Homo sapiens: one gene and its partner. The protein of the gene in region 1 purifies or fractionates together with the protein of each later gene. This does not show direct contact. Each region holds a gene or a part of one and is shown on either strand. Other genes may lie near its edges.

The links.
Region 2: the proteins of IRF1 (region 1) and SEC63 purify together in Homo sapiens (affinity purification with mass spectrometry, with the first as the bait; one large-scale study listed by BioGRID). This does not show direct contact.

The regions. Positions count from the first base shown.
Region 1 is NC_000005.10:132,484,310-132,487,955, reverse strand, and holds part of IRF1 (interferon regulatory factor 1), read left to right. Parts: coding exon 1-30; intron 31-825; coding exon 826-1,002; intron 1,003-1,111; coding exon 1,112-1,161; intron 1,162-1,269; coding exon 1,270-1,399; intron 1,400-1,582; coding exon 1,583-1,705; intron 1,706-2,239; coding exon 2,240-2,289; intron 2,290-3,458; coding exon 3,459-3,594; intron 3,595-3,646. UniProt on the Homo sapiens protein: Transcriptional regulator which displays a remarkable functional diversity in the regulation of cellular responses.
Region 2 is NC_000006.12:107,902,395-107,906,208, reverse strand, and holds part of SEC63 (translocation protein SEC63 homolog), read left to right. Parts: intron 1-1,487; coding exon 1,488-1,580; intron 1,581-3,210; coding exon 3,211-3,365; intron 3,366-3,814. UniProt on the Homo sapiens protein: Mediates cotranslational and post-translational transport of certain precursor polypeptides across endoplasmic reticulum (ER). Proposed to play an auxiliary role in recognition of precursors with short and apolar signal peptides.

The DNA of each region.
Region 1 (3,646 bases):
GTTTGTTCCGGAGCTGGGCCATTCACACAGGTGTGTGCCTGGGACTCAGGCCTAGGAAGCCCAGGGTAGAGACAAGAGGAGGCACTCACGTTAACACAGAGGCTCTTCACTGGGGTCCCTGAGCTCCCTGAGACAACATGCAGAATTACTGGGAAGAGGGGCTGGTGGCAGACTTGTGTTTCTGGAGAAGAGAGTCGATCATCTCAGCAAATTCTCAAAGGGAAAAGCCAAGATCTTAGAAAGTGTGTGGCTTCAGGGGGTTTGTGGCTAGATGAAAGTTCTCCCTGGCAAAAGCATCTGTGAAAAGCAGCTGTAAGCCAGGGCACTGAAAGAGACCCAGGTCTGCCTTTTTCTTCGTGTTGACCAAGGCCCTTGGTCCAAGCCTCATGTGGTTGGTGGCCTCCTTTATCCTTGAGAGATGGAGCTCTAGGCCCATCTCAGAACAGTCAGCCCACCCATTTAGTAACTGTTCTCTGCTGCCCAGTCTGTGCCCACTCTACCCTCTGGCTGCTGATAGCCCAAGGAGGAAGACTGGGCATAGTCTGAGACACAGATAGTACACTTTGGGGATATGGGGACTCTAGTGCTTCTGGCTGGGCCCTTCACTGAGGCCCGCTAGATGTGTTTAAGCCAAGCCTGGGCATTTGAGAAGGCCCAGGGCCTAGGACCTGCAGAGTGTCACCGGGAGTACCTGCTGGTTTGACCACTGTGGCTCTCTGGTAGCATAAGAGGTCAGGGGTACCTTGCCTTCCTCCTTCAGGCCAGGGGCAGCTGAGGATCCCTACCCATGGCCCTGACGATCCTCTTTTTTCTCCTGCCCTCTAGGCCGATACAAAGCAGGGGAAAAGGAGCCAGATCCCAAGACGTGGAAGGCCAACTTTCGCTGTGCCATGAACTCCCTGCCAGATATCGAGGAGGTGAAAGACCAGAGCAGGAACAAGGGCAGCTCAGCTGTGCGAGTGTACCGGATGCTTCCACCTCTCACCAAGAACCAGAGAAAAGGTATCCAAGGACTCTGGGTCCTTGGGAAGCCCTCAGGGAGGGAGGGTAGAAGGAGGTCAGCTGGGGCTGGAGAGCCTGCACCAAGGCTGACAGCCCGTCTGCCCCACAGAAAGAAAGTCGAAGTCCAGCCGAGATGCTAAGAGCAAGGCCAAGAGGAAGGTGAGTGTGGTCCTAAGCAGCCAGGCCTTTGGTCACCTGTGGGCCAGGGTGAGCAGTGGAAGAAATGCTAAGGTGGGCCTGGGCCTAAGCTGCTTTCTCCCTCGACAGTCATGTGGGGATTCCAGCCCTGATACCTTCTCTGATGGACTCAGCAGCTCCACTCTGCCTGATGACCACAGCAGCTACACAGTTCCAGGCTACATGCAGGACTTGGAGGTGGAGCAGGCCCTGACTCCAGGTGAGCTGGTCCAGGTCTGGCAGGAGACCCCACAGGTCAGTGGGATGACTCTTTCTCTTGGAGGCATGGTGCTGGCACATGGTGGCCCATTAGTGCAGGCTGCAGGGTTGGTCGGAGGGCGCTCGATGTCTTGCAAACTAAGAAAGCACACAACCTTGACCTGTGGCTTCTGCTGTTCCCCAGCACTGTCGCCATGTGCTGTCAGCAGCACTCTCCCCGACTGGCACATCCCAGTGGAAGTTGTGCCGGACAGCACCAGTGATCTGTACAACTTCCAGGTGTCACCCATGCCCTCCACCTCTGAAGGTTGGTGCTCCTGGGGCCTGGCCTGCCTGCTTGACTGTCTGGGTCCTGTGAAGGGCTTCCTGAGAGAGAAAAGATGATCAGAACTCCACCTGGCACTGAATTGATTGAGTTGGGCATTGCCCAGTCTTAGCCACCATAGGGGGAGGCAAGCGACGGGGACACTAGGAAGGCAGTTCAGAGTGGGCTGCAGTACAGTGGGGGCTGGTGAGAGGAGGGAAGGGGGCCAGGGGCTGCATTTTGGGGTGCTGGTTCTCCTTCCTCCTCTGTAGCCCAGCATCTGAGGGTGAGGAAGGAAGTAGGGTAGGGGTGGGAAGCGGCGTGGCTTCAGGGTTTGAGAGGCTGAGTCACCAGGCCAGGGTCCTGTTCTGGAATCTCTATGGCAGATAGGTCCACCGGGAGGGTGTGTGTGTGTGTGTGTGTGTCAGAGAGACAGAGAGACAGAGAAAGGGCAGGGGGATCTGGTGGGCTGGAACTGGAACTGCAGGGTGAGTGTGGCTGACTGCCAGCCAACCTCTCTGCTTTCCCCATCCACAGCTACAACAGATGAGGATGAGGAAGGGAAATTACCTGAGGACATCATGAAGGTAAAGCCCCTTCCTACCTGGGCACTCTTGAAGTGACCGTTTCTCAGTGAGGAGAGAGAACCAGTGAAGCTTCCAAATCAGAGGATGGGTAGCTGCTGTTGTCACCTGGCTGCTTGCATTGTCCCACAAGTGCCACATTCACGTGGCTTGACTGGTGGGAAAGCCACCATGGGAAGGGAAGGCAGGTGGGAGGCCTGGCCTCTGACAGGCCGTCCTGAAGCAAGCCTTGGGGCATCAGACAGCTCTGTGAGTCAGGCACTATCAGCGATGGGTCCCTGGCCTGCATCCTCTGCCCCAACATGCCCCAGCCCTGCTAGTTCGGGAAATGCACATCAGGCTTCAATAATCAGCCTTTAGGATCCGTTAATATGATGATGGCTTTATAGAAAAAGTTAGCAAATTATCCTCCAGGTTTTTTTTTCTGCTTCAGTTTTGAAAGTGAATATAGTTTTTGCAGCCGGGGGCAGTGGCTCATGCCTGTAATCCCAGCACTTTGGAAGGCGAAGGTGGGTGGATCACCTGAGGTCAGGAGTTTGAGACCAGCCTGACTAACATGGTGAAACCCATCTCTACCAAAAATATAAAAATTAGCTGGGCCTGGTGGCGCATGCCTGTAATCCCAGCTACTCTGAAGGCTGAGGCAGGAGAATCGCTTGAACCTGAGAGGCGGAGGTTGCAGTGAGCTGAGATTGTGTCATTGCACTCCAGCCTGGGCAACAAGAGCAAAACTCCATTTCAAAAAAAAGTTTTTGCAGTAGTTGTACGCCAGCTGTTCCATTAGCCCAAAAAATTGAGACATGGATGTCGTTCCTTATCTCTAGCTTTTCTAGTCATCTTTTCTTGATTTATTATGCTAACCTTTGTTTTAAGCCACATTCCCTCTTACTATGTCCTTACACAGTTGAGAGGGAAGTCGTGGAGATGCTATACCAGAGAGTGGGTGTGAGAGGGGTGGGAAAATGAATTGAGGACCAGTGCCAACATGCATTTCTGCCTCCTCCCTCCCGGGCCCTTGTCCTGACTGCAGTGCACTTCTGCATCCTATCTGAGATTGTGAAAATGGCCAAGGGTGTGATACTGGCTGAGAGGAGCTGGCTCATTGAGGGCAGGGCCACAGGGTGAGTCTGCACTGGAAGGGAGTTGATAGCCTCTTGCTCTTCTGTCCCCAGCTCTTGGAGCAGTCGGAGTGGCAGCCAACAAACGTGGATGGGAAGGGGTACCTACTCAATGAACCTGGAGTCCAGCCCACCTCTGTCTATGGAGACTTTAGCTGTAAGGAGGAGCCAGAAATTGACAGCCCAGGGGGTAAGAAGGCCCTGGATCCTTATGGCTTCTTAGATGAGGGAGAACCACGTAG
Region 2 (3,814 bases), on another chromosome or scaffold:
GGCAGAGCAAGTGTCTTCACATGGCCAGAGCAGGAGGAAGAGAGAGATGGGGGAGATGCCACACGTTTTTAAACAACCAGGTCTTGTGAGAAGTGTATCTCGAGAACAGCACCAAAGGGAGAACTCCACCCCCCTGATCCAATCACCTTCCACCAGGCCCCACCTCCAGCATTGGGGATTACCATTCAACATGAGATTTGGGTGGGGACACAGACCCAAACCATAGCATGGTGGTGCGGTGTGTTTTGTTGCTGTTCTTTTTTGGCCAAATAATTGCTCAAGGACTTTTTAAAAAAGAAATGTATATGCTACATAATTACTTCACAAATGGTTTGAAGATCTAAGTAAGTCAGACGTTTTGGCAAGTGTTAAAATTTAGTGTTTCAAGGTGAGAGAATGCTCTGTATAAGAAATGTTTAGTTAATTGCAGATCATACAAAAGTTCCTAATAATTTTTTTAAAGGACTTTGTAAGTTTTTGGAGGGAGCAAAATGGATTTCACAACAACCAACACCTCTCACCTCCCCATCTACAAGCTTCCTCCGACAGTGGTTACCAATAATGTCTGTTTTATAGTTATTTAAAGCTTCATAAGTACTTGAAGCCATGTATTCTGCTTAAAAGAAAAGTAGTTGATGGAGGCAACAGTGTTTCCAGGGATGTCATTAATTATCTCTTTTTCACCGACATTATTTCAGTTAAAGTTTTAAAAGACAGTTACTACCTCTAGGAAATAAATGTTCTTTTTGAATGATATCCTACCATCCCCCACCTCCTTTAAGGCAGTAATGCAGTTAAATGCTTCCGAAAACAAGGCCATGTGACGCTTAGTAATTGGTGATAGGACAGGATGCTTATGGTGGAATGAAGGAGCACTATTTAGGCAATATCATTGGAGTTGCTTTGAAATACTCAATTAACTAGTAATTCTGTTGCTAATGTTCTGTACAGATACATAAGCATCTCCATTTTTACTTACCTGTAAGAAGCAGGAAACAAATCATTGTTGAGTACCAAATCCATAGGTTAATGTGGTCTTAATAGTTAACTATTATATGCAGTATAAATGAAAGAGTCTTTCTCTTTCTGTAAGTTGCCCTCTTCTTCTCTTCTACGTCTCTTATCTCTCCCCCTGTATTTAGCTGACATATTTATTTTGACATATTTAGTTGATCTGCCTGCCTCAGCCTCCCAAAGTGCTGGGATTATAGGCGTGAGCCACCATGCCCAGCTGGGAGTTGGTTTATTAAGCCTAACATTATGATATTAAAAATTTGTCTTTGAAACGTCTAATCTGAGCTAGGGTTTTATGGCTGATTTTTGACATAGTGATACTGAGGAGAAACTCTTCCATTCAATCTGTAAAATTCTGAGATCATGTGAAATATTTGTGGCATAACTTTAATATTAGTTTTGGGCCACAGTGATAAAGATGCTTTAACTGTAAAATTAAAATGATCTGTTTCAGGTTTTTTATTGTTTTGCAGATCAGCAATTCATGCTAAAAAAGTGTCCTGCCCTACTTCAAGAAATGGTTAATGTAATCTGCCAACTAATAGTAATGGCCCGGAACCGTGAAGGTGAGGAGGAAATATAGTTAATTATGTTATACTTTTTCTTGCAAGCATATGCAGATTGTACTTCATATTTTAGGATTTATGGGTACTCAGACTTCTGTCGGCCAGTTCAGTGAGCTTCTTCAATTTTACTCATGTCTTTTCATATTTCTTTCCTATATTTTCTATTATTTAAAGTCTATATCACAGCTCACTGGGTTTTTTTTGTTCTTTTTTTTTTTTGAGATGGAGTCTTGCTTTGTCGCCCAGGCTGGAGTGCAGTGACAAAATCTTGGCTCTCTGCAACCTCTGCCTCCTGGGTTCAAGCGATTCTCCTGCCTCAGCCTCCTGAGCAGCTGGGATTACAGGCGCGTACCACCACACCTGGCTAATTTTTGTATTTTTGGTAGAGACAGGGTTTTACCATGTTGGCCAGGATGGTCTCCATCTCCTGACCTCGTGATCCACCTGCCTCAGCCTCCCAAAGCCCTGGTCACTGTGTTTTTGATTTTAATTCTTGTTTTTTTTTTTTTTGGAGACAGAGTCTCACTCTGTCGCCTAGGCTGGAGTGCAGTGGCGCGATCTTGGCTCACTGCAACCTCCGCCTCCCAGGGTCAAGTGATTCTCCTGCCTCAGCCTCCTGAGTAGCTGGCATTACAGGCGCATGCCACCACGCCCGGCTAATTTTTGTATTTTTAGTAGAGACGGGGTTTCATCAGGTTGGTCAGGCTGGTCTCAAACTCCTGACCTTGTGATCCACCTGCCTCAGCCTCCCAAAGTGCTGTGATTACAGGCATGATAATTTAATTATTTTATTGTTCAATTGTTTGCAAAGATTTAAAATTTCTCTTTCTTTGAATAATTTTTGAGTTAGGTCATTTTTTCTAACAGTGAATTTGAAATCTTTAACTGATATAAAAGTGATTCATATGTCATGTAATTTTTATTAATTAATTATAGACAGCATCTACCAGGGCTGGAGTCCAGTAGGGTAATCATAGCTCACTGCAGCCTCAAACTCCTGGGCTCAAGCAGTCCTTCTACCTTAGCTCTCCGAGTAGCTGGAACTACAGGTGCATACCACAGCACGGAGCTAACTTTACATTTTGTGTAGAGGTGGGATCTCACTTTGTCGCCCAGACTGGTCTGGTTTCCAACTCCTGGCTTTAAGCAATCCTCCCACTTCAGCTTCCCAAAGCCCTGGGATTACAGTCATGAGCCACATGCCTACAGGCACCTAGCCATTTTTTTTTTTTTGGTATGGAAGGAAAAGAATGAGGGAATTTCTGGTCAGTAATGGAAAGGAATGCCCTTAAAAAAGGATAGTGGTTATGGTTTGTTGTTACGGGTGATGTTGGTTCTTGTCATGGTGTCATATGTTGGTGATACTGATAATGTCTGATAATTTACTATTATTTGAGGTGAGGCAAATAATTTTTCTTTTAAATCAATGGTTGTTGCTGGAAAATGTTCATTAGATCGAGTTTGTATATTTTTAGTGTCTTCTCTGGTAACTTTTAAAGGAAAATCTTACTATGATCCTCAAATTTGAGGTGTTATGGATTTAGTGTGAATTTTGTTTTTGTGATGAATTGTATACTCCTGAACATGTAAAAAGTCCAGCCCTGTTTCTTTTTTTCCTGTTCTTTCTAAGAAAGGGAGTTTCGTGCTCCAACTTTGGCATCCCTAGAAAACTGCATGAAGCTTTCTCAGATGGCCGTTCAGGGACTTCAGCAATTTAAGTCTCCCCTTCTGCAGCTCCCTCATATTGAAGAGGACAATCTTAGACGGGTTTCTAATCATAAGAAGGTAATTCTTTGCTACTTTAAAGTCAGTTTTCAGCAGTTTGTCCTGTCACTTAAAGGTAACATGAATAAAAGTTTTCTGGAAATGGTTACTATGCATTTTTTAGATTTAGAATGTCTTAAATACTCTAAAACTTTCTCTCAGGTGGTTCTGTTAACATTTTCTTGACTAGGTAGCTGTGTTTTATAGTATTTTACTACTGTAAGTAGTTTTATTATTTTGGGGGTTGTTGCATTTAAAAAGTCAACAGTTAGTTCCTTATATTATGTTACCAAAAATAAATGTACTGTCTACTTTACAGTCATTTTATTCTTGGCTTAAGGTTGGGCAATTGTTTACTGGTTAAGCATGAACAACAAAAACATTTAATAAATCAAATAAAGACAGTTCTTATTTAGAATATATAATCTATAGTATAAACATGATAATGAATCTTAAGATATAACAAAAAT